Regions from separate parts of the Homo sapiens genome. Here all the other regions are linked to region 2. Evidence: fine-mapped expression QTL. A gene starts in region 2. Each other region holds a variant in brackets. All regions are shown on one strand. Distances are from middle to middle.

Region 1 (8,107 bases), 210 kb after region 2:
GGTTATGTATAGATTTGACTTGTCATGCCCAATGTTGCAAGAAACTCCTCATACATGTACAGGAATCATATCTCTCATCCAGAAAAATGAGACTGTTATCTGTAACCTCCAGTATGCTATCCTCCTTTTCCTTCCATTGCAAGACCATCAGCTTTCTCTTTATTCCTCAGTTCAACAGTCTCTGAGTACTTACCCAGTGCCAACCAGTCCTGAAGCTGACACTGGTGATAGAGAGATGGCCAAGAAACTGATTTTGTCTGCATGTATGTAGAGCTGACAGCCCAGTGGAAGGAAGGAGGCAAGTGTGGGGATGAAAAGGATGCAAGGAACCTGGATACCAGAAATGTCCAGCTAATGTTCTAAGGGAGTTCAAAACTGGGATATGTCACAGTCACAGTCCTCCCTGGAATTCAAGTCAGAGTACAAGGTTACATGATTTGTGATTATTGCAAACCTCAATTTCCACATTTGTGCAATGGACTGTCAGTACTGACTGCTTAGGAATTTTTTTTCGAACCTCTTGTGATTGAGGCTCAGCTATTGAAATGCCAAGCCCAGGTCAGAGATTAGTCAGAGGAAATGCTAAATTAGAGCCCATTTGACTTTTATGTATGACACTAATTAAACAATAACAAAAAAACTCCAAGAACTCTAGATAGTTTGTCCAGGGGACACCTATAGGTTATGATAACATCAAAACCAGAACCAAAAAAGCCCAAATATTTTTCCTGGGAACTTTTTTTTCCTCACCCCTGAGTAATTCTAATAATATGCATGTAAAATACATTATGGGAAATCCTCTAACAATTTCCACCTCTGTGATAAATGTTGCATTCGAGTAGAGCAAGAACATCTACTTAATAATTCCATATAACTATTCTGCAAAGCTGCCAGGAGCAGAATTTAGTCAGTTGGGTATAGCACGAAGTAGATGGCGTGAGAGAAAGAAAGAAATGGTTTGAACCCAGACTTGGCCACTAATGTGACCTAGAACAAGTGATTTAACCCTCCAAGCTTTGGTTTCCTCGTTCACAATGTGGAGATAAAAAATGATACATACTCTACAGGGTAGTTGTGAGGGGTCAATGAGTAAACTACATGTCAAGGGCTTAATGTCAGTAACAACCAGAGTGTTGCTGGTCCAGAGTGAACACTCAGAAAATGGTGGTGGTGATGATGATAGTGGTGGTGATGATAACGGTGATAGTGGTGGTGGCCGGGCAGGGTGGCTCATGCCTGTAATCCCAGCACTTTGGGAGGCCAAGGCGGGTGGATCGCCTGAGGTCAGGAGTTTGAGAACAGCCTGGCCAACACGGTGAAACCCCGTCTCTACTAAAAATACAAAAATCAGCCAGGTGTGGTGGCACACACCTATAATCCCAGCTACTCAGGATGAGGCAGGAGAATTGTTTGAACCTGGGAGGTGGAGGTTGCAGTGAGCCGAGATCACGCCACTGCACTCCAGCCTGGGCAACAGAGCAAGATTCCATCTCAAAAAAAAAAAAAAAAAAAAAAAAAAAATATATATATATATATATATATATATTAGCTGGGTGTGGTGGCACATGCTTGTTATCCCAGTTACTCAAGAGGCTGAAGTGGGAGGATCACTTGAGCCCAAGATTGAGGCTGCAGTGAGATATGATTATACCACTGCACTGAAGTTTGGATGCCAGAGCGAGACCCTGTCTCTAAAAAGCAAACAGGCCGAGCATGGTGGCTCACGCCTGTAATCCTAGCGCTTTGGGAGGCCGAGGTGGGTGGGTCACCTGAGGCCGGGAGTTCAAGACTAGCCTGACCAACATGGTGAAACCTTGTCTCTACTAAAATACAAAAATTAGCTAGGCATGATGTTGGGTGCCTGTAATCCGAGCTACTCGGGATTCTGAGACGGGAGAATCGCTTGAACCCAGGAGGCAGTGGTTGTGGTGAGCCGAGGTCACACCACTGCACTCCAGCCTGGGTGGCTGAGCGAGACTCCATCTGAAAAACAAAACAAAAAACCAGCTCAAACACTCCAATAGACCACTTCATTCCATTCCTTCTTTTAATTGTTCATGGTGGCCTTTTCTCCCCTGTGAAATACATAAATTCCCATAGTTATGGAGGGGCTCACACTGTCCTGCCACCGGCCTACAGTTTCAAACAGCTCCTGTCAGCTAAACCTTAGCCGCCTTCCACCAGGTTCTGGAACCTCCCTTGGGAAGCCTTCCCTGACTGACCTGACCCACCTAGAACTTCCTTTCTTGGGACTCCCTGAACCACACACTTTATAAAACCAATTCACTAATGCCTTATTATGTTTTAATATGTATAATATTTATTTTGTCTATGAAAGTTTCATTGCGTTTGTCTTCCTAATAAGTTAAAGCTCTAAGAAGTCAAGAATTCTGTTTTATTTACTTTTTGAATGCCATTTCCTTTCTTTTAGAAACCCCCATTCCCTTCTTGTCACCCCCCACCCACTGTGGAAAAAAAAATTGTTTAAAGCACAATGCTGAATGTATATGGCATTCAATGCATAAAGCTGTATTTGGATTTCTTTTTTATAAATCTTGATTTTTCTCTTGCCCCTTTTGCTTCACCCTACTCCCCATATCATGTGCCTTCAAATATACACAAACACAACCTTTTGTATTTATATATAGTGACCTGCTTGCAAAAATAAATGTGTTAACAATGTAGGGCCTAGGACACCTGATACCATTTGAGCCTCAGAATGTATTAATTCAGCCGGGTCTGTGCAAGAATGGTGATTTTTCAATTAAACATACTGTAGCAATGATGGCCTCTTTTCCCACAAACTTACTAAGGTAAGGAATGGGACAAAAGTAAAGCCACCTTCTTTCCTCCATTACAATAGGCCGTGTCCTCCTTTCTCAAACCTTGGCTCAGAGGCGAGGCTTGTAGTTCACTGCTGCATTCTGCTGGGAGAACCATGGTGACCCTCTGGGTCATGGTCCCGACTGGGACACCGTATTTTCGTGCTTCTTGTTTTTATTGTTCCTCTATTTCTTTTTCTTTTGAGTCCAATCTTCAGTCAAGCCTTCCGTGTGAATGATAGTGGCCACTTGGGGATCTCCATCTGCATTTTATTGTATGGCCACGCAAAACCTTTTATCTAATTCCTAGAAGACATCGATTGCTGCATAGCTTGGTGGGTGAAGAATGGAAAAGCACAATCTCACTTTATTTTGCTGGTGGCTTTGCCCTCCCTTTCCTACAAGCAGTCATTCAGGCCTAATGGTTCTGTTCCTCCTAATTATTCATTTGTTCATTCGTTCATTAATTCATTCAGTCTGCCATTCAATATATATTTATCAAGCATCCACTATGTTCCAGGTGCGATTCCAGGCTTCAGAGATAGAACAGTGAATCAAACTGATAATGCCCCCCTCTCCAGGAGCCAGCATTCTAGCGAGAGAGAATGACTTGCTGAATTGTTTCAGTTGGAACTTTTTTTAGACTCTGAACCTTGGAAAAAGTCCACTTTCCATGGGCTTATTAAATGTGCTGAATCAGACAGTTGGTGCTGTTTACTAGAGATCAGGGTTCAACCAGCTTTAGCTGCATGACCCAGAACATTTGATTTTATGATTTACAAAATAAAAAGTTATGGCCCTCTGCAGATGTCCCATCTAATTTGCTCATTGTGTTCCTTAGAGGCAATGTGGTATTGTGAAAAAAGCAAGACCAAGCTTTGCGGTTCAAGTGGCCCGTGCTTGCTGGGCCTCAGTTTCCTGATCTGTAGAATGAGGCTGGATAAATCTAAGTTTCTCTCCAACTCTACAGTCTGATGGTTCTAGTACTACAAGATCAAGATTTTTTTCCTAAAGAGCCATTTGTCTTATTTTAGCTTCAAGCCAAGCCAGGGCATCTGAGAAATACCAAGCCTCCGTTGTGATGTGTCGCCATGAAAATGTTGGCTGCCCTCTGGATGCAAGTCTGCTTGTGCTGTGCTGTGGCTCAGAGTTAAATTTAGATAAAAATCAGTTAGGAGCTAA[G/A]AATATTCCCAGCTTTCCTGACAGGTTGTATCCATCATTATGGGAGGAAAAACAAGGAACTGGCTGCCTGGCGACAGGGAGCGGGCCAGGCTGAGTGTGAGGTCAGGCCTCGGCTGGAATCTCACGGACTTGAAAGGACAGAGACGTTTCCTGAGATGTCTGCGGCAGAATGTGGGAGGCTTCAGCCTGAGGAAAGTTCAAGTTGGAGAGAAAGGTTGCCAGACCTTTGAGTGACCCACACTGCTTATAACTTCTAGAAGGTTCTTTTAGGGAAACCTGCTTAGAATGAAACCCTGAAACGTCCTTTGCTGCCTCCTTAACAACTTGCATTAGAGAGTTTCTTCAGCCAAAAGGCGAATGTCTGTTGAGTGGAAAGGAGAGGACGGAGTCGATGTTGTCCCCTGTGAGATGTCATGTCTCAGGCAGTATGCTGGACATTCCCGAGACGCCAGCTCTGCTCAGGTGACTTGTGTGCCCTGCCCTTGTAAGCCTCGAATTACTCATCGTGAAATTGAGGTCAAGCCACTCACTCACAGACAGGGCTGTGGTAACAATAAAATGAAGGGTGCTTAGCACATTGAAAATAACTCAGGCAGTGTTCCATTATTGCTATGGGCTGGGCGTGGTGGCTCACGCCTATAATCCCAGCACTTTAGGAGGCCAAGGTGGGTGAATCTCTTGAGCCCATGAGTTTGAGACCAGCCTGGGCAACATGGTGAAACTTCATCTGTACAAAAAATAAAAAATTAGGCAGGCATAGTGGCACGTGCCTGTGGTCCCAGCAACTAGGGAGGATGAAGTGGGAGGATTGCTTGAGCCTGGGAGGTCGAGGCTGCGGTGAGCTGTGATAGCACCATTGCACAATCTAAACTGGGCCACAGAGCAAGACCTCGTCTCCAAAGGAAAAAAAAAAAAAAGACCACCATGATTGTTCTAGTATTGTTTATTGTTGTGCCCTCCTGGGCCAAACGAGGAGGGGTGGGAGCTGCCCTGGGTGTGCCTATGAGGAGGGCCTTGTGGTCTTGTGGAGTCACTCAGATGTGCTTTCAATCTGAGCTCCCCCACTTCCTAGCTATAGGACCTTTGTTAAATTCATCTTTGAGTCTCAGTCCCCACTCCTCAGAAATGGGTATGACATGTACTTTCTAAAGCTATTCTAAGAATGGCATGCAGTTGTCATTAATTAAAACACGCAGCACACGGTAGGTATTCAACAAACATGGGGAATTGTGTATCATCGTCAGTAGAGGATGCTCTCAAATTACACTAACTCTGCTAAAATCCAGGCCAGGATTGTGATTCGTTGGGAAGCCTTGGGGAAGTTGCTTCGCCATTCTGAACTTCAGTTTCTTCTTCTGTAAAATGGAAGTAATAACAATAGTATCAGCTTTCTATAGTTACTATGAGGATTAGATGACATAAGGCATGTAAATCCATTAGCAGTGTCTGGCATGCAGTAAACCCCTCAATAACTGTTAGCGCTTTCCTTCCTGCCCCTCTCAATTCTTCCAGGACCCAGGTGAAGAGAACAGTCCTATGCTTTGTTCCTTCTGATGTACAATACTGTCATATAAACCCACTCATTTTTTTCTCACTTTCTCTCTCTGCCTCTGCTGCTGCTGTCACCAGTCCATCGCTCTGTTGGTTGCCAAGAGTAAGAGAGCGACTAGGTTGGTAAGTAATTTCAAATAAAACAGACACCAGTCTACACACAGAGCAGAGGTTTGAGTGACATGGACACTAACCCGTTTACCGGGTGCCACTGGCGATCTGGCCTTGTCGAGGAAGGAGGGAGGCTGTGCTAATTTGCTCTCCCACCTGTGTGGCTCCCGGGTGTAGACAGAGCGTTGAGCTCATTTCTCCTGCGCTCCTCTCAGTGGCCTTTGGCTGGCAAAGCTGTTTGTCTCCCCTTCTAGTTTTCTGCTGCAGCCATTTGGACAGTGTTGATTAGTTTTCCTGAGGTGCTGTTTGGGCGTCTCCCCAGCCACCTAGGTACAGATGGAGTGTGTTTGGCTTGTGATGGTGACAGAGGGGCGGCTGCCCTTCCTCGTACTTCTTCTGGCATTGAAGAAGCAGCTCTGAAATCTCCAACTGGGATAGGCCAAGAAAATTTGGATGTGGATACATGAATGCCTGGTTTCCTCTGAAGGTAGTCAGGTCTCAGGCGGCCAAGATCACTGGGAAGAAATGTGACTTTGCATTTGAAGTTCTCATTTGGGGAGACTTGGAGTTATCAGTCTCAGCTGGCTCCAGCCCAGAACAGATTAACTTTTATGAAATGATTGTCTCCAAACACACTTACTAAATGCAAAAACCTGCTGTGGCTCCACAGGCACCATGGGGCGGGGTGAGCTGCAGAGCTTCACTCTAGCTGGGATTGCTCTGCAGTCTGGCCCCCAGAGCATGGTGGGCCGGGAGGAGGAACCCCTGATTTAGATGCTGAAAACCTAGGCTTTGCTCTTGGCCCACCACTAATGAGTTGTAGGACCTAGGGAAATGGAGAAAGGCATACTGCTTCACAGGGAACACCTCAGGGCCCATCTCCAGGACTTTTTGTGGAGGGAATGGGAGGCCTCTGTGGCATTTTGATTCACAAATAGCTAATATTGAATTACAATGCATTCCTTGCCCCCCCCTCCCCACCCCGTGACATTGGACTGCCTACTTGTCCCTTGAACTTCAGCTTTTTCATCTGTAATACAGACATGATAAAATTCTGTTTGTCAGCATCTTCCAGGAAGCAGACATCAAGACAGGACTGTACATTCAAGGATTTTATTAAAAGAAACAGGTTAGGAGAATGGTCAGATAGCAATGCAAGTCTGATCTCTACTGAAGGAAAGAAGAAGGGGCAGTTGTAGGGAAGGGTCCTAGATTGCCAAGGAGGGTCCACAATGCCATCAGGGAGTCCTGCAGCCAAACTCAGCTGTCAGAGGAGTCCCATGTCTCCCAGGAATAGGTTTGTCTCAGTACCCCTGCTGGGTTCCGCTATTGCCTCTGGAATCAGCCCATGAGAAGTGCAGTCTGGTGCCCACACAGCTACAGTGATGGATTTCAGAGCACAGCAGCTGGAGCCGTTGGTCAATTTCATTGCCTGTAGTTGGAGGTCTGCGAAGAGCATTGATTCTCATGGGTACCACAAATACCTACACTGCCAGACGGCTATAAGGATAAGAGATGAATGTATGGTAAGTCTTACTTAAAGGATGATGTATGTGTGTACATGGGTACGTGTCTGTGTGTATATTCTTGGCTGTAAAATGCAGAAGGAGTAAACTAGACATGGAATCAGGAATCCTAGAAGGAGAAAAGGACTCTGCTCCTGGCCTTCAAATTTGCCCCTTAATTTAATCCTTCCCTTAACAGGGAAGTCAGGTACCCAAGGTCACAAAGTTAGACTGCAGCATGCCTCGGATTTGAACCCCGGTTGAAGTCTTGTGATGTTAACATTTTATGGCCCGATTGCTGTCACAGGCTTAAGATAGGGACCATTCAACCTGACAGCAGACGTCTCTCTCTCTCTTTTGCCATACCTAGAATTATGCCTGATATGCAGAGAGTACTCGCCAAATATTTGAGTGATGAATTCATTAACTGCAAGCTGAGCCCTTTAAACAAGCTTGTCCAACCCGTGTCTTGTGGGCCACATGTGGCTCAAGACGGAATGTAAATTTGTAAACTTTCTTAAAACATTGAGATTTTTTTACATTTTTTTTTTTTTTTTAGTTCATCAGCTATTGTTAGTGTTAGTGTATTTTATGTGTGGCCCCAGACAATTCTTATTCCAGTGTGGCCCAGGGAAGATCGGACACCTCTGCCTTTAAGCTTGGTATCTGGTCTAGCTCACCTAGACTCCATTTGGGTATTCCCCCCTTTTAGGCCTCCCTAATAGTGCTGTTCCTATGGGGAGGCTGGGATGCTTAGGTGAGAAGGACATCTTCCCTTTTTGCTGCCCACGAGGTGGGGGCATAAAGAGCCACTTGTGGCTAGAAAAGCAGGTGCATTGCAGGCATTAGCAGCTCAGCCCAAGAGTGTGAGCTTCCTTTCTCTGGAGTCTCTAGGCTGAAAGGGTCTTGGGAGGGGCATTCTGAGTTTTGGCTTTC
Region 2 (8,107 bases):
TTTTGTTTACCATGCCTCCCTTATTTTCTTATTATTTGCTGGGCACAGGCTTGCCTTGACTTTACAGTCTGCATAAGTTTACAACCAGGAAAATGAAAGGAACAATTTTACAAGCATCGTGATGGATCCTGGTACCTCCTTCAGAGCTTGAAATTAGGGGTTTGAATGTAGGTCCATTTTCATCCCACTTCCAAATGCTAGCAACGTAGGGAATTATACGGGGGTTTCCTTTCCTGCTGGGACACAATTCTCTGAAGCACAGTTAGGATGAAAACACGAGGTTTGTAAGAGCTGAGAGCAGTGTTTTTCAAAGTGCAATTTTCAGAACTCTAGGCCCAAGAGATGTTTCGCTGGTAAAAGGATTCCACGTCAAATACATTTGGGACACTCTGCATCATCTCTCCCCTCTCAGGCAATCTCAGTGCTTATAAGTAAGAAAACTGTGTTCCCCATAAGTTTCCCCCCAAAGGGTCCAGCTGTCCTGCATTGCCTTCCTGTAATCTGTTCACACGTTGCTCTTATTCCAGTTCCACATGCCCTGAACTCCCAGAAGGTTGCTCTCAGCAGTGAGCCATTCATTCCTCAGAGATTTGGGAGCCCTCACCACGTGCAGACGCTGTGCTGCAGGCTGGGAACCACAGGAGAAATGGCTGAATGTTCTGTGGGTGTGGCTGTAGGCAGAGGGCTGATCAGTGAGGTGGGGTGGTGACAGTCTTCTATAGGATGTCGTATGCATCATTTATCAACTTAACTAGGACAAGAGAATGAAGGGGGGTACTATTAATAATTAATTAATAATTATAATAGGACAACAGGTGTAAGCTAGAGCTGTCTTACATAGACAGAACTGACACATGACAGAAGAGTTATGTTTCTTGTCTGTCCCTTTAGGAGCTGCCTCTAGGGCCAGTGGATAATAATTACAGGGCAAAAGGTTTCAAGTCAAAATTAAAAGGGAATTTCTAACAAAGAGCCTCTAAGAACAATGTGGCTATTTTATGAGGTAGTGAGTAGCTCACCACATCAGATATGCAAAGGGGTGACCCACCCTCCAAGATGCTGTGTATAGCTGACACTGACATGCCAGGCAGGCCCCCAGCCTAGGTAAGCACAGGCTAGCCTTTGACTGTGATCTGAAGCACATATTCTTGGCTCTCTCTTTCGGTGAGGGTCAGTAAGCTATTTTATATGCAAGGACCACATTCTGCTCTTCTGATTCATACGTGACAGACACATTTGGATAAAAGCAGAAATATAACAGGACTGAAAGATTAAAACTTGCTGTCTTAGCATACTTAATATTCACTGATGCTTACACATAATGTAAATATCTCTTTGTTTAAAATGAGTATAGGCTGGTCTCTGTGGCTCACGCCTGTAATCTCAGCACTTTGGGAGGCCAAGAACGGAGGATCACTTGAGCTCAGGAGTTTGAGACCAGCCTGGGCAACACAGCAATACCTCCTTTCTACTAAAAATAAAAAATGAAAAAAAAATTAGTCAAATGTGGTGGCGCACGCCTGTAGTCTCAGCTACCTGGGAGGCCGCAGTGAGAGGATTGCTTGAGCCCAGGAGGTGGAGCCTGCAGTGAGCTGCAATCATGCCACTGCACCCCAGCCTGGGTGACAGAGCAAGACACTCTCTCAAAATAAATAAACAAATAAAACAAGTATTATCTTGACTTTAAAGAAAGAGACTTTCTTGTGACATATAAGCAAAATATGGTCAAAACAATTTGACCAAGGTTGAAAATGGACTGGAATCACTTCTAAGGAGCCAGCCTAGGTCTGTCGAATCAAGTTTGCTCACTAATAATCATACTTTGGTTATGTCGGATGTTAACATTAGAGGAAGAGGGTGGGGGATATAAGGGGATTCTTTGTACTATTTGTGAAACTTGTCTAAAATTATTTCAAAATTAAAAAATAACAAACAAAACCACATCCTTTGCTCCTGAGCCCTGTTCGCCCCAGACATTATGTGATGAACTCACTCCGTTCTTTAAGATCCAGCTCTGCAGAGCATCTCAGATTCCCTGTCCTGAGGCAGGTACTCCTGTATGAGCTCTTAAATACTTCTGCATTTACCTACCACCTACTGGTATGGTTTTCTGACTATATTTCATCTTCTTCGCCTCACGTGGAGTTTCTTTTAGAATGGAAAGTTTTCTTCCTTTCCTCTTTGAATCCTAGCACCAAGGCCACACTCGGCACTGAATACCTGTCTCGAATGAATGAATAAATCAATCTTGTTTGAACAAATCTTATTAGTTTTGCTTTTTTAAAATTATGGTAAAATGTACATAACATAAAAATTTCCATTTTAACCATTTTTAAGTGTATAATTCAGTGACATTAAGTACATTCTAAAGTTGCGCAGGTTTTTTTTTTTAAATCAGTTCTAAATGGTTTAAACTGGCCAGTATTTACTAGAGCTGTTAGATCGACTTAATTTGGACCCATGAGACTCGTGACACTCAGAATTAATCTAATCCCATTTACACCAGGTGCCTCCCATCAAAATCTGTTTGATCAAGTGTGGAATTATTTCATCCCATTGGAACCAGCTCTTGAATCAATCAGAACTGGCTCTGCCAGGCTCCGGGCCAGTAGTCGGTGCTCAAAATGGTGTTTCTTTCTTTGGCCTAATCTCTTGAGTAGCCTCTTTCCCTTTTGTTAATTTTTTTTTTTTTCTGGAGGACAATCTTCCCTGGGAGCTCCCTTCTGCTCCCACGAAGCGCTCTGCACCCAGCCCTGGTGCTGCCTGGCTCTGGGGCAGGGAGCTTGCATTCTGCCACCTCCTTCATTGTCCTCTCGGTATACCTGCACTTTCAAAACAACCCCTGCAGGCAAGCTTTAGAGGCAGCGATAAACAAACAGGCTGACTGAAATTTAGGGAAACGCCTGTATCTGGACAGCCTCTTCAAATATTTGTCACCCCCTCCCTGCTCTGGGGAAAGAAGAGACAGTTCCTCACAGTCACTCTATTTCCTGCCTTCCCAGCTCTGAACACCTTGGCTCGAATGTAAAGAATTTGGCTCTGAATTAGGACTCAAGAAACGGGGCCCTAGCAATTTTCCCTCCATTAACTAAACGCGTCACTTTGGTCATGCCCTTTTGGGGGCAATAATTTCCCAATTCGTAAAATGAAGGGATCAAAGTTTGATTTTTATCATTACTAATGAGAAGAATTATTATTTTTTTGCAGCAGGCTTTTTTTTCCCCAACAAAATATTACTCTGAATAAGACAAGAAAGAATCCCGAACGGCTCTGGCCGTCAGGGTGTGTGTGTCTCCTCCCCATGCTGTCTAACCCCCGTTGGAATTTGGAGGGCTCTTGTCCTTTCCCCTTGGCCTCAGAAGGAGCCCAGCGCGTCCTACCTTGCGTGGGAGTGTGTGTGTGACCAGGGCTCCTTCCTGCCCTTAGAGTCACCGCCCCCTTCTCGCACAGGTTTACAGCACCACTTGCCTCGCCCACTCCCCGCTTTGCCTCCGCCCCATCCTGATGCTGCCGGAATGGCTGTTCCAAATGGAAGGATGCCCGCGTCCGTCCCCTGCCCCAGTCCTTCAACAGGTCCCCACAGACCTCAGGATAAGATGAACGCGGAATTCAGGGCCTGGTCTCAACCGCCCTCTCCCTTTTCCTCTCACTTAGACGACCCTGGCCAGCTGGGCCACTCTCCACTCTCGCCCCCTCCCGCCCTCGTGGCCTCTGTCTAGACCGTACTCCCTCCTACTGGGTGATGTCTCTTCCCCTGGGACCCAGGGACCATCCCGTTGTTGACCTCCGGGGTCAGGGGTGCGGATGGGGGCCGGCCCTTCCCGCGGTCGCCGCCAGGGGGCGGCAGGAGCGGCTCCAGATGACAGCGGGAGGCCGCAAGAGGGGAGGGAGGAAGGACCGAGGGAGCGCGGATCCCGCTCTCGGATCGCAAACTCTGAGCCAGAGCTCTCCGCGCGCGCCTGAACCGCTGGCCGCCCGCGCAGCCCGACGCGGAATCGGGGCACAGCGGGAGCCCGTGCAGGGCGGGCGCGGGGCGGCTGGGCGGCGGTGGCGGCCGTCCATGCGGCGGCGCTCGGGGCTGCCCGGCGCCGGGAACCACGCGGGGGCGAGGCGAGGCGAGGCGGCCGCCGGTCGCTCCGGGACGCGGACCGCCAGGTGAGCAGAGCCGCGCGCCCCGCGTCCCCTGCGCGCCGCCCGCGCGGCCCCGACCCGGCTTCCGCTGCCCAGGCTCCGGCTCCCGCTCTCTGGCCGGCGGGGCGGGCTGGCGCGGGCTACCCAGTGGGTGTGTCCGGGGCGCCGCGGGCTGCGCCGCTCCGGGCTCGGGGAGCCAGCGCGCGCCTGGTCCGTGCGGACGGCTGCGCCTCCTTCTCTGGTTCTCTTCCTTGCTGGGAGTCTTGCTCTGTGCTGGCGCCGGCGCTCATCCCTCCACCCTCGACTCTAGGGACAGTCTTAAACTCTAGGGACAATCCACCTCAGTCGTCCCCGGGTCGGGGCCCCGTGCTCCCCGGGTCGGGTCGGAGGGGACCGGCGAGTGCACACCCAGCCCGTGCGCCCCCCACCTCAGCCTCGCCTCCCTCCCGCCTGGGGCCCGAGAGCCGGGCAAGTCTCGGTCAGCGCTCCTTGAGTCCTGGCCTGGGGCCTCGGATCTGTGTGTCTGTCTGTCTCAGTTTAGTTGCTGCAACCCAGCGAGCGCCTGGAGCCCGAGTGGATGGGTTGTTTCCGCCAACTCTGGACACTTCCTCAAGTGCAGCCTAAGTACCTGCGGCCCCTTGGCGCACTTACAGAAGTAGCTTTTGCACAGCGAGCTCACCTTGGAGCTCTACAGATCTGGAAGTTAAGTTTTCTTTTTATTTGAAATAACATCAGCCCTCACTTGGGAAGGGGATTTTAGGGCGTTCTCGGGCCCACCTAAGTATCTGGAATTTGTGGTCTAGTAAGTTTTTTAAGCAGTCCGCACCCAGCACCGTACCTCCCAGCCTCCTTTGCCGTCTTACTAAAAGTGCATGCTTGCTTCTCTTCCTGTCTCCTTTGCGATCTCTACCACGCTGCGCTTCGCCCTTTTCGGGCTATGAGTCTAAAGCTTGGACGTGGGTAGCAATCATTGGATGCCTGTTGGAATTTGGAATTAGAGAAATAGATACCCGAGAGAGATCTAAGGAATCGCCTTGTCCAACCCTCCTTTCACAGTTGGAGGCACCCAGGACCCCTGACAGTCTGAAGATTTTTCAAGGATCACACAGCTTTTAAAATCCGCGTGTCTTCTACTTGATTAATATTGTTGGAGGTGATGGAGTAACTGGGCTTACTAGGGTCTTACTGGGTCTCAATATACAAAGAAGCAAACATTTTAAAAATGTGACTTAAAATACGGAACTCTTCAATTCCTATAGATTTTTGTTGGCATCATAGTTGAATTCCTTTAGAAAACAAAATCCTAGCCCTGAAATTAATGTGAGGAAGCAAGCAGATGGGCGTCCTGGGACTTTCCTATAAATCTCTGCAGGGCTGGAGCAGGGATTTCCCAGAGGTCTGGGCCTGGGAAATGAGTTTGGGTGATCAGGATACTGGAGCCCCTTCTGAATAAGCAACTGGGTTGGTTTCTTGTGGGGAGGCTGGCCAGTGGAACTCATGTGATCTCCTCTGTGCCCAGCACTGGGCGGGGCACCAGCTTGGCATTACCTTCTTTTTAGTCTCCTATGCCATAAAGAAATATTTCTTACTGGCTGTTAGCGAAAGAAAAATACAGCCCAGAGTTTGGGAGGAAGATCAGGGGTGGGGAGATTTTTGACTTGGAGTTTGTTTTTGTTTTTGCCTCGAAAAACTTGTGGAGATTGCAATCAGTTATCCTACACAGAGGCTGTGTATTGCCGTCTTCTCCATCCCCCACATTTCTCTCCATGGTACCACTTTTATCCTAATTGCTGGGAGTCTCAATGTTTAAATGTTCCCAACACTCCCATTCTGTCCCCCACATTTATAGCTCATTCATCGCAAAATCTCTTCCACATTCTTTTGTGATATCTGAGGAATTATTTACCTGTCTCCATTCCCACTGCCCCCACCTTCAACCATGTCCAAATTACAGTAATAATCTCCCCTCTTGACTCCCAGCCACGAGTTGCTTTCTTCATTTTAATCCATCTTCTTTCATGCTGATAGATTAATATTTCTGAAATTCTGATTTCACCACATCATTTCTCTCAAGAAATCACAATGGCTCCCCAGTATTCACTTCTATTTAATTTATCTCCAACAGATATTTCTGAGCGTCTGCTATGTGCCAGGGACTGTTACTATGTGCCAGGGACTGTTACTATGTGCTGGAGCTTACGCTATGAACAAGACAATATCATTGCCTTCAGGGAGTCCACAGGCTAGCAGATGATAAATAACCACCCAGGGGAGAAAGGGAAGTAAAGAAATAACCGCAATACAAGGGGGATGTGCAAAACATCAAGGAGATGCGAATGAGGGAGAAATTGATTCTGCATGGGAGGAGCTAGGGCAGTTACCACTGGGCTTTGAAGCCTAAGGAGGAGTTCAAGGAGATGGGAAAGGCTGGTGGGGAGGGAGGACAGGCCAAGCAGAGGAAAGAGCTCGAGGAAAGACTGAAAGATAGGAAAGTACTGTATGGACACGGTTGAATCCAGGTTACTTTTCATCAGGGCATTTAAAATGTTTCCTAATCCCAGTCTACTTTATTGATCCAAGAGCCATCCCAACGCCTTCCTGCTTGAAGGCCATCCCTCCACTCACCCAGTCTCTATCATGGTCTTATCTGCCCTCCCCACACCTCCCATCCCCAGCTCAGAAATTCAGATTTCCCCTCTTCTGATCTAAATTTTGCCAGGCAGTGTATCCCACCCAGCCTTTCTTGCACACACTCCTGTGTCTCTTCCCTGCATTCTTTGTGCCTGCTCTATGTTCAGCCTGGATGAGCCTCGCCTCCCCAGCCACTCTGAGGTTTCCCCCGAGCAGCCTCCTTGGGCCTCTCCAGGTCATGGAACACACTGTCCTCATGTTAGTGGCCCCAGCACACTTGAAAGCACATGACTATTTGCCTGGGTTTGACCCCTCATCTCACTTTTCTCTTCTCTCTCCTCTTCTTTCTGGTTTTCCCATCTTTTTCTTTGCGTGTGTATGCAGAATCGTGATGTTTACTTATGCGCAGATATAAAGGTTTCATGTGTATTTGTTGAATATCCTCGCTGTGAAAATGGATTAAAAATGTTATGCTGGAAGCCAACACATGATGCAGGCTGACGCAGGTGAGGAGAAGATTCAGGGGAAGCTCTGGCTTTAGGCTGCTTTGCTGCCTCTGGCCCCCTCTTGGGATCCCCCAATTTTACTCCTCCTCCGCAGGACCGCTGTGCTGAGGCTGGGACACCCCTTCATCATCTAGGCCTGTTTTGCTCTCTTTTCCTCCTCCTGTCAAAACTTACTTCTGTGCCCACAGCCTCGCTGGCTTGTTAGCCTCACTGGGGCCATGCTTAGTGAGCACTGGTGTGTGCAATGCTTGGGGCTTTCAGTGGTTTCTCTTTTAATCCTCCCAGCCACCTAGAAGGGAGACATCAGCATCTGCCTTGTACAGGAAGAAAGTTGAGGCTTACTTGCCTGAGGTCAGCAGCTCAGGTTTGGAGCTGAAATCTTAAACCCAGCTCTCTAAATCTGGTGTTCTTTCCACTATATCATTATTTCCTGAAACAGTTGTCTTAGGAACATCTGAATCAAAATTCAGATCTGGTGAAAGAAAACACAGGCTCCAGGGTGGAAGCAGGGCTCGAGAACTGGCGTTTTTAAGATTACCTCAGGCGATTCTTCCGCACACCCAGGTTTGGGGACCACTGCCCTGGGCTTCCTTTACAATGTGGTTCTAGCGACAGGTGGTGGGTTAATACGCCACTTTATCCCAGGCAGCATGTTCCTTTTTGACAGAGGCCCTGACTTTGACTCTAAGGAGTGAGCAATGGAGAGTTGTGGCCAAGGCCAGGAAGAGGGTCCTCTCTTTTGGCCCGAGGGGTCTTTAGTTCAGTCCTGAAGGCCCAGCCCCCTCAGCTTACTCGAAGGCATGTAAACCCACCTGCCACCAGACTCACTGTGAATTTCT
Region 3 (8,107 bases), 180 kb after region 2:
TTTCTAAGACCTTTCTAGTTTCTGATTATTTCCTTCACATAGCATTCTGTTCTTGTTTCATGGATGCACTATCTTAACATACTTTAATTAACATTCTTTAAGAATATAACAGGATTTTTTTTTTTTTTTTTTTGAGACGGAGTCTTGCTCTGTCGCCCAGGCTGGAGCACAGTGGTGCGATCTCAGCTCACTGCAAGCTCCGCCTCCCGGGTTCACACCATTCTCCTGCCTCAGCCTCCCGAGTAGCTGGGACTACAGGCACCCACCACCACGCCCGGCTGATTTTTTGTATTTTTAGTAGAGACAGGGTTTCACTGTGTTAGCCAGGATGGTCTTGATCTCCTGACCTTGTGATCCGCCCATCTTGGCCTCCCAAAGTGCTGGGATTACGGGCATGAGCCACCGCACCTGGCCAAATATAACAGGACTTTTGAAGTTCTTTTTATTTTCCCTGCCTATCCCCTCACCTCCAAGTTCTTTTTGTGTTTGTGTTAACCCTGCCTTTCTTGTCAGGGGCTTTCCCCAGATGGCTGTCAGCTTTTAGAGTATATCCATATTGGACAGGTCGAAAGTTCTACGTGCATGTGCTGCAGATGCCCTGTGCCGTGCAGCTCAGCATGCATAGGTGGGGTAGTTGGTTGATGAGCTTTTCTTTAGGAGAACAGATTTTGAGCTATCTTTTTTTGTTGGAACCCTGCACACAACTGTCATTATGTAGATGGTTTTCCTCTCAGGTGGTTGGTTTTCTCCAGAGAAGAACCCTTGAATCTCCTGCCTGTGGAGGTGGACGTGTGGTTGGTGTTCTGGGTGCCCCTTGCCCTGAGCTCTGTTCTCCATGGTGCCTGTTTCCTGGGTCTGCAGCCCCTTCTCAGTTTCTCTGAAGAGTAAACCTCTCCCCTGCTTGGGGAGGAGCATGGGGGTTACGTAGTAGCCTGGCTGCATAACATGGGCTTAGTAGCTCAGTTTTCCATCATGAACCAGAGCCTCATCTTTCATGGTTCCTGTGCCTCCGAGGGCTGGGCTACTGGGGTGTCTGTCAGTCCAGATGGCTTTGTTCTCAAGTTTCCTCCACAGTGGATATGAATGTTTGCAACTTACACTCAATTACAACGCTTTCCTCTACTTTTCTCCAAGTTTGCTGAAATCTTTATTTGTGGATATCTCCTCTCTTTTTGCTTTGTCCTCATAGGTTAAAACGTTTTAAAATTCCCTAACAGTAGGAAATTTAGTAGGGTTTTGGAAGGGAGAGGAGGTGTAAGATGGTCACTCTTCCATGTTTAACTGGAAGTGGAAAGTCTAGGCTTTTGCTTCAGGCCTGGGAGGTGCACATGAAACAGTCCCTCCCAGTGGCTGCCTGGGGGGTCCCTGAAGGGTGTGAGACCACCGTGAATCCTGGGGCAGGGCACTTGCAGTACATGTGCTATGTGTTTGCTAGTATTGTTTTAGATGTTTGATCTCCTAGCCTTTGCTTTTCTTTGTATTTTTCCTGCTTTAGTCCATTTCCCTTCTAGCTCCTTCTGTTCTCATTTATCTTCTGCTGCTGCTTGGAGTTACATTTTCAGCAAGTCTGTAACACCTCTCTGAACCAAAGGCTCTCAAGTTCATCTTTCTTTCTCCAAGCCTACGCCTGTGCTGCTGTCATGAGTGGCGAGCTTCTGTTTCTTCTGTCTTCTTGTCAGTCCCAAGTGCCCTTTTACAGAGAATGCCTGTTTTTCACTGTCTAGCTCAGTTACCAGGAGTCCCTGTGAATGACACCCACAGGTCCCTCAAAGAAGTCAGATTTCTCTTGGACCTGATAAAGCAAACAAAATGTGACCCAAGCAGGCTGAGTTGGACGGGTCCCTTCTTACCTTCGCCCTCTGCCATGTTGACATTCTTATCTGATGGCACAGGCTGGGAGTTCAGGATCCACTTAGATGGGGTCCGTTCAGGGGATACCAGCGTTCACATTTTTCCTTTTAAGAAAGGGTCTTGGCCTGAATGTTCCCCATCCGGACACAGGCTGCATGTCTCTGTGAGTGTCAAAGCTGCCATGACCATCTCGGTAACCTACTCTTACTCCACAATGTCTATATTCACTGCAGGGCTCTATGATTAGTCCATAATGTAAATGCCTGGCCCAAGACGTATGGCCTGAGTTTATCCAAGGCCCAAACGATTACCAAACATTCCTCTTAGATAGAAGACAGATTTCTTTCCCTTGGCAAAGATCTTCTACTAAGATATGTTACAGGATGTTTTACATTCTCTTGGTCTTATAATAACACCACGCCCAATCCAGTATTTGATGCGTCGGTGGTCACTCGGAAGGTTGTTATTTTAAAAATACTTATTGTTCTCAGTCTGCAGTTCTCACAGCTGTAAAAAAAAAAAAAAAAAATACAGTCTTGTTTCCACCTTTCCAGAGTTTTATGGCACCTGGGAACTGGGATCAAGCTGGGACTGGGTCCAAGATTGGGGTGGGTGAGTGGCGCTTGCGTCAGGGAATGTGAGTGCCCTGCAGGCTGGAAGGGATGCTCTGGTTGTAGCCTTAAGATAAACAGATTGGGCTGGACATCTGTGGTTTCAGATTAGGCAGGAAGGAAATCATCTCCTACCTGGATTACTCAATATCTTCCTTACTGGTCCTGCAGTGATCCTGGGAGGGTGATATGATCGGCTTTGTTTACAGATGGATGAACCAGATGAGTCCCTAGGAAGTGAAGTGACTGGCCCAGGATCACGATGAACTCTCAAGGCCAAGTTTGAACCCAGGCCTTCTGACTCCAAGCCTGTAGTCCTTTCACTGGCCTACAGCTGCTTCCTGAGCCCCTTTCCTGGTTCAGTCAGGCAAAACAAACCAGCTTCCTGCGAGTTAAGGGGGAAAAGGGTTTAATGGGGACTGACTCATTGAGATTGGCAGTCCCCTTTGGTTAATTTCATCAGGTCATCTCCTAGCGTTCCATTTCCTTTTGTGGAGACACAGATCAGAGGCAATCTGGCTCTGTATGAACTCACTTTGTGACTCTGGGTGAATCATTTCCCTCTCTGGGTTTCAGGTTCCTCATTGCACAGTAAGTATATTGGAATTCAGTGGTTCTCAAATCTGCTGGAACGTCAGAATCACCTGGGGACATTTTCTTTAAAAAAAAAAAGCCAGCTCTATTGAGTCACATTTTACAATCAATGA[G/T]TTTTAGTAAGTTTACCAAGTTGTGCAACTATCAGCATAAATCAGTATTAGAACATTTTTATCATGTCAGTAATATCCCCATCCACTCCCACTCCCTGCCCTAGGCAACAAGTAAGCTATGTACTTTCTGCCCCTGTAGATTTACCTTTTCTGGATGTTTCACATAAATAGAATCATGCACTGTGTGGTCTCTTGCATCTGGCTTCTGTTACTTAATATAACATACTTGAGGTTCATTAATACTGTAGCATGTATTGATAGCCTATTCCTTTCTATTGCTCAATAATATGGCAATTGTATGATATGTCACATGTTATTTATCTACTTATCAGTTGATGGATATTTGATCCAGTTGATGAGTCATGAATGATGCTGCTTAGAACATTCATGGACACATTTTTGTGAGGGCGTATGTTTTCATTTCTCTTGCGTATATACCTAGAAGTGGAATTACTGGGTCAAATGGTAACTCTTATGTGTAACTTTTCAGGAAATAGCCAAACTGTTTCCCAAAGTGTCTGTACCATTTTACATTCCCATCAACAATAGATAAGGGTTACCCTCTGGAGAGCTTTTTAAAAATTGTCATTTCTGTGCCCTACCCACCTGAGGTCTGGCATGGGGCCCAGGAATCTGCATTTTATGAGCTCCCCAGGTAATTCAGATACATCTGGTTCGTGGATATGTGTTTCGGCCCACTAAGACCGGATGACCTCTGAAGCCTCCCTAAGGCCTGTTGTCTCTATTAGTCTGTGCCTCTCGGGCAAGACGCACCTTCCTGCCAAGTCTCTCTGGGTGTTTGTCTTTGGATCAGAGAATCAGTACGCAGAGCAGGGCTGAGGGAGTTGGCCAAGCAGCGTGCATAACTCTGCGCAGCACCTGTCCTGCATTATCCTCCACACTGGCCAAGGCTTTGTGTCCCTGGCTTCATGGACATAAAATTTTATCACAGGTTTTTATGTGTTATCACATTGTAAAAGTGCCATAAAATCAAGGGTCCAGTTTTCAGTGCATCTGAAAACGTCGTATTCCTTTAAGTTATAATCTTGGTTGCAGTCATTTTGGTAACTTGTTGAGAAGCCTCATCCCGACCCTGCCATTTATTAGCTATAACTAGATTTTTAATTGCTCCGAGCCTCTGTTTTCTCATCTGCAAAATGAGATTAATAACATCGACATCATGAAGTCTCTTGAAAGGATTAAATGAGATAACCTGTGAAATGCTACTGTAATGGACCTCAGTGCTCTTTTCTTTCTTTTGGCTGTTTCTGCCCCATCCCTGCTTCCATTATTATACATCTTTTCATGAGCTTATTGCCCATTTATATGTCTTCTATTGTTTTTAATGAGGTGAAATTCACATAGCATAATATTAACCCATTTCCTTCACATCCTTGTTATTTATTTTTTTTTAATTATATCCATCCTAGTAGTGGGTGTGAAGTGGTATTCATTGTGGTTCTGATTTGCATTTCTTGAATGGCTAATGATGTTGAGCTTCTTTTCATGTTTTTGTGTGCTTATTGGCCATTCATATATCTTATTTGCAGAAAAATATTTATTCAAGTCCTTTGCTCTCCTCTTCTTTTTTTTGTTTGTTTGTTTGTTTGTTTGTTTGTTTCTGAGACGGAATCTCGCTCTGTAACCCAGACTGGAGTGCAGTGGCGCAATCTCAGCTCACTGCAACCTCTGCCTCCCAGGTTCAAGTGATTCTCCTGCCCCAGCCTCCTGAGTAGCTGGGATTACAGGCACGTGCCCCCATGCCTGGCTAATTTTTGTATTCTTAGTAGAGACAGGGTTTCACCATGTTGGTCAGGCTGGTCTTGAACTCCTGACCTTGTGATCCGCCTGCCTTGGCCTCCCAAAGTGCTGGGATTACAGACGTGAGCTACCACGCTCGGCCTTTTCCTCCTCCTTTTTAAAGACAGTAGGGTGGTCTCACTATGTTGCCCAGGCTGGATTCCACCTTCTGGACTTAAGCAATCCTTCCACCTCAGCCTCTCAAGTAGCTGGGACTACAGCTGCACACGACTGCACCCTGCTCTTTTGCCTATTTTTAAATTGGGTTGTATGTCTTTTTGTTGTTCAGTTTTGAGAGTTTTTTTGTGTGTTCTGGATACTGGAACCTTATCAGATATATAATTTGCAAACATTTTCCCATTCTGCCATTTGTCTTTTCACTTTCTTGATAGTCCTTTGATGCACAAAAATTTTTATTTTGATGGTTTATCTGTTTTTTTCCTTTCGTTGCTCATATTTTTGGTGTCGTATCTAAGAATTCATTGCCCAAATCTAAGGATGTAAAGATTTACCCTTGTGTTTTCTTCTAAGAGTTTTATAATTTTAGCACTTAAATTTAGGTCTTTGATTCATTTTGAGTTAATTTTTGTATATGGTGTAAGGTAGGGTTCTAACTTCATTTTTTGGAGGGGCTATTCAGTTGTCCCAGCATGATTTGTTGAAGGGACTATGTCCCTTTGAATGGTCTTGGTACCTTTATCCAAAATCAACTGATCATAGATACAAGGATTTCTCTGGACTCTCAATTCTATTTCATTAATCTATATGTCTGACCTTACAATAACACCACACTGTCTTCATTACTGTAGCTTTGTAGCACATTTTATATCAGGAAATGTAAGTCTTCCAACTTTGTTCTTCTTTTTAAAGGCCTCCTTCTGTTATTAACCAGCCATCCCACTGTTATTTTGCTACTAGACCGGGGTATCAGCTATGTATACTGTAAAATTAGCTATACATATCTGGTGTCTCTATTCTTTTTCCACCAGATGAGGCTTTATTTCTTCTCTTCTAGTCCCCCCCTTAGATATTTCCCTCCTTCTGTGAGACTGAGACTGACCCCTGGATATGTGCTGACTTTTTTTTTTTTTTTTTTTTTTGAGGCAGAGTCTTGCTCTGTTGCTCAGGCTCGAGTGCAGTGGTGCGATCTCGGCTCACTGCAATCTCTGCCTCCTGGGTTCAAGCAATTCTCCTGCCTCAGCCTCCTGAGTAGCTGGGACTACAGGCACACGCCGCCACACCCGGCTAATTTTTTGTATTTTAGTAGAGACGGGGTTTTACTCTGTTGCCCAGGCTGGTCTCGAACTCCTGAGCTTGGGCAATCCACCGGCCTCGGCCTCCCAAAGTGCCAGGATTACAGGCGTGAGCCGTGCACACAGCCCAGTGCTGACCTTTTATTTCAATCACCTCAATGGCTGGAGAAGCAGAACCTTTGTTGTTGAGTCCCTGGTACACCCTCAGCACCTGCCTGGTGATCTCAGGTTCTGCCCTGTTATTTCATGAGTCTCTAGTCTGAGTCGCCTTTATCTTACTGAGTTGGACAGGAGGAACAATAACCACATAGCAGAATGACCATTAAAAGAGGCGGGAATGAGGTAACATGACTGTTGATGGTACTCATCTAAATGTTTTAATATATTTTGAAGTTTTAAAACTTAAGCCATTTGCAGTTTTAGTTTAAAATTCTTGGTTTCTTCATAGCAGCAAGTTAAGAATTGTGGATGCTTCGATATTCAACTATTTACACTGTTTAGAGAAGAAGCTGTGCTAGGAGAAAGGGGAGAAAGGAAGACCACTGGAGGCAGCCACTCCTCTGTTCTGGGTATTTCACCTCTGCTCTGAAACTTGCAGGCTGCATTGAGCAAAAGAAAAACAATGTGCTTTGTGACAGCATGCGTGAATGTAGAGGACTTTATGCTAAGTGAAATAAGCCAGGCAGAAGAAGACAAATACTGCATTATCTCACTTGTATGTGAAATCTAAAGAGTTCAGTTCATAGAAGCAGAGAGTAGAATGGTGGCTATAATGGGGAAGAGGGAGCTGTTAGTCAAAGGGTACAAAGTTTCAGTTAGAAGGAATAAGTTCTAGTGATCTATTGCACAGCATCATGACTACAGTTAATAACATATATTTCAAAATTACTAAAAGAGTAGACTTCAATTGTCCTTATCACTAAGAAATGATAAGTATCTTAGGTGATGGGTATGTTAATTTGCCTGATTTAATCATTTTGCAATGTATACATGTGCCATAACACATATTGTACCCCATAAAATTCATACATTTCTTATTTGTCAATTAAAAATAACATTGGGCTGGACGTGATAGCTCACACTTGTAATCCCAGCAATTTGGGAGGCCCAGGCAGGATTGTTTGAGGCCAGGAGTTTCAGAACAGCCTGGGCATCATAATGAGACCCTGTCTCTACCAAAAAAAAAAAAAAAAATATATATATATATATATATATATATTAGCCATGGGTGGTGGCAGGCATCTGTGGTCCCAGTGACCCAGGAGGCTGAGGTGGGAGAACTGCTTGAGCTCAGGGTTTTGAGACTGCAGTAAGCTATGACTGCGCCACTGACTCCAGTGTGGCAACAGAGCAAGACCTTGTCTCTTAAAAAAATAAAATAAATTTAAATATAAAATTAGTTTTTTAAAAAAGAACAGTTTAGCAACCACACCCCTTCACCAAGAAACAAAAAAATAATGTGTTTAAGGGGAAGAAAGCAGAAGGCATTTTGATGAACCTCTCCTGTCACTCAGGCATACCTCTGTGGTTGTCATGACCAAAGGCCCCCTTATCAGAGGACTTGCAACCATTTACAGAGCCCTCCTTGGAAGGAGTTCTGGAAAATAGTAGTTTCTCTTCTGGTTAGGTTTTCTTAACGTTCAGGGGCTTTCAAAGCCACATAGGGACAGCTGGGAACTTGAGATAGTTTGATTGCTGATTGTGAAGGATTGGCTTGGTTGATGTTTTTGGATCAAATGCTGTATTTATAGAAGTTTCTCATCACTTTTCTCACTAAATTCCTCAGCACATATTCTAGGCAGGGTTCAGCTTTTTAAACTCTTATCAATCCCCCTCAAAATTATCCATGAAGATGCTGTAGTATAAGAGTAAAAACTATAGTAAA
Region 4 (8,107 bases), 510 kb after region 2:
TTTTTTCAAGATGTTCAATCTACTTTTTATTACCCTCTTTTTGTAAATTTTAATGATGTGAAAAGCAGCTAAGGACCAATGGAGAAGCTCAGAATAGCAATTTTTGTAGGAAGTCCTGATGAAGAGTTTATCAAGGGAGATTTTTAAGTCAGTTATGAAGCCTGAGGGAAAGCTAGAAGTTTAGGGAGACCTTTGATCATACAGTATTGGAAATGCAGGATACTGTTAGGGTAAGTGAAGGCTCAGGATAGGCAGAGGTAGCTATGGACCTAGATTGAGGGGAGATTTGTTCAATGGGATCTACATTGAGCTGGGCAGGATTTGGATTGATAAAGAAAATAAGAGCAAGCCAGAGTGAGCCATGTTCCAAGGACAAGGAAGAGGAGTCTTTTCTGTTGCAGTGCTGGTTGGATGGCTCCAGCAGTGCCAGTTGATGGAGGTCTCGGTAATCAGGAGTCCCTGAAAAATATTGAGCAGAGGAAAATGTAATAAAAGCCATATTTTAAGAAAATTAATTTGGTGCCACTGGAAAGAATTGGAGGGAAGGGGTAATGAAGAGGAAAACTGAGTGTTAGGAACACCAATTTCTATTATAATAATCAAGGAGCAAAGTGATGATTAAGACAATAACTAAGGTTACCAGAGTGGTGCCAGTGTTATGCCATTAATGACAACAACTACCATTTATTGAATGTTTATGTGCCAGGCATTGTGCGAAATGCTTTACATAGATTATACTCTTTAATCATCACAATAGCCTTATGAAAGAAGTACTTTAATCCCGTCTTACAGAAGAGAAAACTGAGATTTAGCAACATAAAAGTATTTCCCGTAAGTAAACAGTAGAGCCAAGATCTTGACCTACGCCATCTGATACCTGAGCCCATGCTATAAAAGAGGAGCATTAGAAATATTTGAAAGATAGAAATGAGAACTAGTCAATATTTATTTTGCTTAGCACTGTATTCAGTATTATGGCATCTTAAAGTAGTTAAGACTCAATATTTCATCAAAAAAGTTTAAAATCTAATCAGAGAATCGGCCGGAAGCAGTGGCTCACGCCTGTAATCCCAGCACTTGAGAGGCCGAGGTGGGCGGGATCACCTGAGGTCAGGAGCTCAAAATCAGCCTGGCCAACGTGGTGACACCCCATCTCTACTAAAAATACAAAAATTAGCCAGGCATGGTGGCGGGCACCTGTAATCCCACCTACCTAGGAGGCTGAGGCAGGACAGTCACTTGAACCTGGGAGGTGGAGGTTGCAGTGAGCCGAGATGGCGCCATTGCCCTCCAGCTTGGATGCCAAGAGCAAAACTCCCTCTCAAGAAAAAAAAAAAAAAAAATCTAATCAGATAATCAAGTCTTACAACAGTGAATTAATTCATGAACCAGACAGATGTCATGGATTGGCTTCCCTGGGAAACAGACTTTGAGATTTGTCTGCAGGAGGTCTACTAGGGAGAGTGATCGAGAACAACACGTGAAGGGTAAGGGCTGCAAGAATGATCAGGTCCAACAGATAACTTAACATATCCTACAGGGAGTTCTGGAGCCACAATGACCTTTCAGAGTTGTCCCAATAGAAGCAATGGGACAGGGCCTTTATGCCCCTCCATCACCCAATCAGTGGATACCAGCTGCCCCCAGTGAGAACACTTGAGCAAAGCAGTCCTATGTGGGGGATTCAGCTCTGAGTCTCCAGCCTCAGTCCTGAAAGGAATCCGGACTGCATACCACAGCATCCACAACAACAAAATAGATGAACATGTTATATATTTGAATTATTTAATCTTCAATTTGTAAACACTTTAAATCACATTTTTGGGGAATACTTTCCTGTAAAAGTAGTTTTTGGTGGGGAGGAAATGTCCAATAAATCTGCCAGTATATTTCTTTGCCATGGAGTGACAGCCTTAGTTCTTGATGAAAGTAATCAATATGGAAGGCATTTTGTGTGTGGCTTAATTGAAACCCTGTGTTTTGGACTCATTTGGTGTTAATGTGTAAATCCAATCCTGTTTTCACACCTGCCCTCTTTTTTTTATGATGCCTTGTTCAAGTGGAAGTCTAGTCTGGCTTTTTGCTTCAGTCTAAAGAAGGCCATGGACTGTTGTCATTGGCCAGGAATCCAACTCATATGGTGGCATGAAGTCATCCTTCAAGCCCAGCAAAAAGACCCTGTCAGCCTTGCCTGCAGAGAAAGCCATGTGAAAGATGTCCTGTGCTAGGATCATCTGGTGAGCAATCCATTATACTGTCATTGATCTTGACAGATATTGGGCATACATGTACACCTGGACTTCACCTCCTAAAGAATCTGATTCCTGGTGGCTGGGATGGGATCCAGGCATACTTATTTTTTTCTAGTGGGCCAGTGAAGAGCTTGTTTTGTTGTTGTTTTGTTTGTTTGTTTGTTTGTTTGTTTGAGATGGAGTCTTGCTCTGTTTCCCAGGCTGGAGTACAGTGGTGCCATCTTAGCTCACTGCACCCTTTGCCTCCAGGTTCAAGTGATTCTCCTGCCTCAGCCTCCCAAGTAGCCAGGACTGCAGATATGCACTACCACCCCCCGGCTAATTTTTGTATTTTTAGTAGAGATGGGGTTTCACCATGTTGGCCTGGCTAGTCTTGAACTCCTGACCTCAGGTGATCCACCCGCCTTGGCCTCCCAAAGTGCTGGGATTACAGGTGTGAGCCACCAGCCACAGCCTGGGCCAGTGAAGACCTTTGATAAATCCATCTATTCTACAGGGTTCTTGGAGATGAGATTGCCTGTTGAGTATATTGGGGGCTCTTCAAGAGACTAAATCTCAAAGAAAGAGCTTCTTGAGGAACTGAGGAGTACCATGTAGAAATGAGAAAGAAGGTGAGGAGAAGTTTGAAAAATTCTGCACTCAAATAAAAGAGAAAAACAGGAGGACAAAGGACAGAGTTGGGTACTAGAGACTATGATAAATCTCTAAGATTCTTAGGTCTTCTTGGTTACTGTCATTCCCATATCCATTACTCTTAGATGAAAGTGGTCCTTGTGTTTATCTTGACAAATAGCAAATAAGTGGGACCATGCAAACAAGCATTGGTCTCTTTTATTCATTCATGCAATAAGTATTAATTAGCAGTAACTATATTCCAAGCACTGTGCTCAATGCTAGGAGTGCAGGATGAGGAAAATTTAGTCTGCTCAGGGAGCTCACAATTCCAGGGTGGAGGGGGTGGAGACTAAGAGGTGATAGATTGCTAAGGTAGAGAGGGGCACAGCAGCTGGGATAGCACAGACTGGCAGTCCATAATCCTGTTTAGAGAGTCACGGAAGACTTCCTGGAGGACTCTGCAGGATTAGAAATGGGTAAATCAAATATGGTTTTGTCATTCAAAATTGTGGCACATCTCTCCAGTTATTTAGATCTTCTTTTACGTCCTTTTAGAGGATTTTTATACATTTTTCTACAAAGATCTTATACAGTGTTTGTGAGCTTAATTTCTAAGTAATTCATAATGTTTGGTGCTATTGTGAAGAGTATGTTATTTTGCATTCTTTTTGTGGTTGGTTATTGTTGGTTATAGAGACGTACAATTTATGGTATCTTGTAACTTGCAATCTTTTGGTACTCTCTAATTCTCAGAGTTGTTGGATTTTATTCGGTTTTCTAAGTAAGAAAAACAACATCTGCAAACAATGGCAACCTTTTCTCATGTTTTCCAGCACTAATACTTCTTATTTCCTTCCTGTGTGTTATTGCACTTATATCTTATTGAACAACATGGTGACTGTGGGCATCTTTGTCTTCTTCCAGACCCTCAGTGGAATGTGTATTAAATTTTCTCTTTTGAGAGTGGTGGTTTCTGTGGAGGTAGGTTCTGGTAGAAACCATTTTCAGATTCATAATGTGCCCTTCTGTGTCTAAGTTTTTCTAAGAATTTTTACACTAAATATGCATTGAACTTTAACAGATTTTTAAAGCATCAAAAGATGCTTTATTTAAATTGCATCTTTTGAGATTCCCATATGATTTTTCTTCTGTAGTACCAATGATGGAATGAATTACATTTAGAGATTTTATCCGATTTTGTACTATCCTTACCTTCTGTGATAAAAATCATCTGATTATAACGCATTACCACATTAACATACCACTGGATTTCATTATCTAGTGTTTTACTCAAGATCATGACATTTCAAAATAGGTAGCATTGACGTGTTATTTTCTCTGCTTTCACTGTTCTTATCTAGCTCTGGAATCAAGGACATACTATGTCATTAAATGAGATGGGCAGCTTTCCTTCTTTTTCTGTACTCAGAAACAACTTGTAAAGTGGGA[A/T]TTATCTGCTCCTTGAATGTTTGATAGAACTTACCCATAAAACTGTCTACGTCTAATATTTGAGGAAGGGAGGTAGGACATAGGAAGATTCTCTGTTATATGAATTTAGTCCATGGAGATTTGTCTGTATACATTTTCTGTTTCTTTTGTGTTGGTTTTGACACTCTTTTTTTTTAGGTGTTCATGGAAGAAAAGGAACATGTCCTGAGGTTACAGAAAGGGAAAGGAGAGCTATCCCATTGCTGGGCAGAGGACTGTCAGAATAGATGTCTGTGTGAAGGGGAGTTAAATGTTCCTTCTCTGATCAGTGTGTTCTATTCATCCATCCTAAGGAGGGAACCTCAAGAGGAAGATGTTCAGCTCATATGGGTTTGTGTAGTATGTCACCTCTCCGACATCTTCATCTGTGACAGGGCCAGTAGGGCTGAATCATGGCATTGGCTTTTGATCAGTGACTTGAGCCCCAGGCATCAAAGGGCCAGTGCTACTGAAATGACTTTCCTCAGAGAATCTGAGCTTGCACAAGCTCAGGCCGTACCACAACACCATTGGCTGTAAATGGCAGCCCCTTCACTAGATGAGAAGTAGGTTTAGCTTTTAGAAGGACACATGGGTATCAAATAACCAGTTACTTGCCTTCAGAGGAGTTTGACCAAGGTTATAGGGGTCCAGAAATCTCATATGAGGACCGCCTGTTGGATCTGAGCTGGAAATGACAGTAGGGGAAAAATATTTCTCTTCTTATAAATTAAGAATCCCCATGGAATGAGAATTACAGATTATTTTCAGGGTATTGTACAATAGGGCAGGGGAGAGGAAGATTTTGGTTCAGAGTAAGGAGAGATTTTTTCCAGTTGAGCTGTGAGTCATTTGTCACTGAAGAGTTTAATTATATGGTGGTTTCAAGCAGAGCATCTCCTGGGTCAAGGCAGAAATTTGGTTTTCACAATGAACAGGAACTTCATGTGGGGGTTACCAGCAGACTATGTTTTCAGGAAGACAAAGCTTTAGAAAGGTTCACATATGGACAACCTGATAAACGTTCGCTGGGCCCTTCCATATTCCAGCTAAGCATTCTCTTACCCTTAGGTAAGTGGCAGAGTTTGGGTGCCCCAGAGTCATGGGCACACAGTAGGATCACCTGGGAAACATTCAACAAGTTATCATGGCCAGGCCTGTGCCAGCCCAAGTCAGTCAGAGTCCTGTGGGTAAGGCCTGGGCATCGGTAGCTTTTCAAAGCCTTCAAAGTGATTCTAGGATACACTCAGGGTTGAAAAGGAGAGAGCTTTGAAAGGAGGGAGGATTCCATTGACAGAGGAGCAGAAGCCTTGGATCATCTTAATTTCATTAACAAGGGGGTAAAAAAGGAAAGGCTGAGAATGACACACAGCCTTACTTGAAACCTTCTTAACTGGATAGTTTTATGTTCACACTTCCTCATGTTTCATAGCAACCCTATGCATTATTTATTCTCATATTAAATATGAAGACACCAGAGATCAGAGAAATTAACTTATCCAAGGTGGCGCAGCAATCAAGGAGCAGAACGGGAATTTGAAGCAAGGTGCACCAGGTCTCAGCCCATTTGGCAGAGACCAGGGCTGCTCACCCTTTGGGACGCATACACGAGTCCCCTTGGGATCTGGTTAAAATGCAGATTCCTCTTCAGGAGGTTTAGGGTGAAGCCTGAGGTTCTGCATTTTTAACAACTCCCAGGCAATGTTGATGCTGTTAGTTTGCAGGTGACACTTTGCGTAACAAGGGTGTCAATACACTTTGAGAATCGAATCTTGATCTTGATGGAGACGTTCAAGAGTCTTTGATTACAGATGAATTTGGTGACTCTTCCCCAGGTGAGAAAACAGAAAATCCATGCAAGTTTGGGAAGCCCCCACCTTGACTCACAACTGCTGCTTGTCCTGCTGAGGCACCAGCCAGGCATCCCCGGGAAACAGGCAGAATGAGGCTGGCAGTGACAGAAATATGGTTGGTCATCCAGCCATCTAACTAATATTTATTGAGTGCCTATGGTGAGCTGGAGACTGTTCTAGACACTTGCGATGCGAAGATAAACAAGGCAGTTTTATAATCTAGTGGTGTGTGTCTAAAGCAAAACAGTTATCACGGGGTTTGGTTACGTTTGTAACTTACCAGACCCTTGAAACACCCTGACTTTTCTCACTCTGTCAGCCTCTACATCCAATCTGTCACCGGGTTGGCTCAATCTGAATAAACAATGTAGTGGAACGGCCAGAAAACTCATGGGGGCTCCCTCTGCATGAACAGCAGCATACTGAACTGGCAGTAGAGACCCGCACTGTCTGCCCAGTAAGGCTGAAGCTGGACAACTGACAGCCTTCAGGTCTCCCAGCCTTATCTCAATGTGGATTGCAACAAACTGGGCCTCATCTAGGGGGCAGGGCGGCCAGACAGTAGAGGAGACCCAAACCCTTTTGCATCAAGCACTGTTGAGAGACCTGGCAGTGTGGACCCTGCTTCAAGACAGAAGAGCCAGTGGGACCCTGAGGGCCTTTCCGCAGCTGCTGGGCCTCCGTGTTCCCTGTGTCTTTCAGGCCACACTCAGATATCACCCGCCCTAACTATCCCAGCTAAAGCGTCCTCCTCAGTCACTCTCCATCACATTTTCCATTTGTAGTTTCTTGAGAACTCAGCTCTAGAGGATGTGACACATAAAGAGATGCTCAGGCCCCCTGGTTGTTCTTTTGTGATGTTGGGTAGACTTGCGTCTTCTACCTCCCCACACCCCACTCCACATCCCATACCTACATTGTTGCCTCAGCCTCCCTGTAAGCTTCTCTTTGTTTATTTACCTCCCTTGCCCCCATCCCAAATCAAATCCATCCTATATGTAGCTGATAGCCCTGCTTTTCTATACTTTTTTCTCATTTGGGATGCGTGGTTTGCAACCTCAGCTCTCAGGAGCCTATTTCCTCGGGTTACTCTGGCTGTAAGGTAGTGATGGCTTGGCTCTGGAACCCTTGGAGGCGCCTTTGTACCCGCAAGCCACGTGGCCAGGCCCTTGTGTGCTCAGAGAGGGGCCTCTGTCTCTCTTGGCCGGCTTTGCTCCTCCTGTCTCTAGTTGGAATCTCTTGACATTTTCCACTTTCCAAGCATCAAACTTATGTCTTTGTAAGCTGGCTCTCAATCATGTTCTTTCTTTTTTAAAATTTGTTGCTATCTAACTACACTCTAAAGTCCCCCAGTAAAAAAAGAAAACAAACAGACAAAAAACAGAAAATTCTCCTTTAATCAATGCTTGCTGTCTTAACTGGTGCTTCAGACAAGCACTTCTTAGGCAAATGGATGACCACATGGCTATTCCAGGGAGGGGAAACGGGGATGCTAAATTGGCACAGAGCTCTGCTCTGTCTCGTCACGGCACTGCCTTTGATCTTTAATTTGAGCCATTCTAGGCAGGGCTCAGTATACTCTGAAAACACACTTTGTGATTAAAAAATGTGCAGTACATCAGCCAAAACATTTGTTTATATTTTACCCCCAATTTTGGGGTTTCTTGTCATGCTTTCCTCAAAAACTTTCTTTATATAATTAAAGAGGTGTGAGTGCTCTGAGCATGACTGTGCAATAGAATACAAAGCACAGTTCCCTTCTCTGAAGACAGAGAAAGGTTTTTCCCCATCTATTCAAGCATGAAGTCTGTAAGGATATGGCACAGCGACCTTCACTGCATTGTTTCTGGAATGGTAATGACAGTCTGGGCTGTCCAGGAAAGAGCGAGCTTCACAAAGACTAAGGCCCTTCCAGGAGGG

Alleles and levels. Alleles are on the strand shown, and positions count from the first base shown. SD is a standard deviation of normalised expression in the study named. Not every link is listed here.
With allele A in place of T in region 4, the expression in esophagus mucosa of the gene that starts at base 3,928 in region 2 is higher (small effect, 0.33 SD a copy in GTEx).

Evidence for each region.
Region 1: its variant is fine-mapped to the expression of THSD4 in lung (TOPMed, PIP 0.97).
Region 3: its variant is fine-mapped to the expression of THSD4 in fibroblasts (GTEx, PIP 0.93).
Region 4: its variant is fine-mapped to the expression of THSD4 in esophagus mucosa (GTEx, PIP 0.94).

What each region holds. Positions count from the first base shown.
Region 1 is chr15:71,325,181-71,333,287 of GRCh38, forward strand. The region is part of intron 6 of THSD4 (thrombospondin type 1 domain containing 4); the gene reads left to right. Among named protein-coding and RNA genes, the nearest start is that of THSD4-AS1, 140 kb to the left of the region's middle. The variant G/A (reference allele first, on the strand shown) is at 4,005.
Region 2 is chr15:71,111,544-71,119,650 of GRCh38, forward strand. It overlaps THSD4 (thrombospondin type 1 domain containing 4), which reads left to right and starts at 3,928. Exons shown (of 18, transcript NM_024817.3): 1 at 3,928-4,155. It overlaps CT62 (cancer/testis associated 62), which reads right to left and starts at 3,961. Exons shown (of 4, transcript NR_168260.1): 1 at 3,381-3,961; 2 at 2,088-2,220; 3 at 605-751. RefSeq lists silencers at 3,742-3,791, 3,828-4,005, 3,852-3,911, 3,942-4,081, 4,232-4,321.
Region 3 is chr15:71,292,562-71,300,668 of GRCh38, forward strand. All of the region lies in intron 6 of THSD4 (thrombospondin type 1 domain containing 4), which reads left to right. It overlaps LOC124903520 (a long non-coding RNA gene), which reads right to left. Exons shown (of 2, transcript XR_007064700.1): 1 at 2,598-8,107; 2 at 1-2,358. Among named protein-coding and RNA genes, the nearest start is that of THSD4-AS1, 110 kb to the left of the region's middle. RefSeq lists an enhancer at 2,300-3,499 and a silencer at 2,749-3,043. The variant G/T (reference allele first, on the strand shown) is at 3,170.
Region 4 is chr15:71,622,601-71,630,707 of GRCh38, forward strand. The region is part of intron 7 of THSD4 (thrombospondin type 1 domain containing 4); the gene reads left to right. Among named protein-coding and RNA genes, the nearest start is that of THSD4-AS2, 65 kb to the right of the region's middle. The variant A/T (reference allele first, on the strand shown) is at 4,317.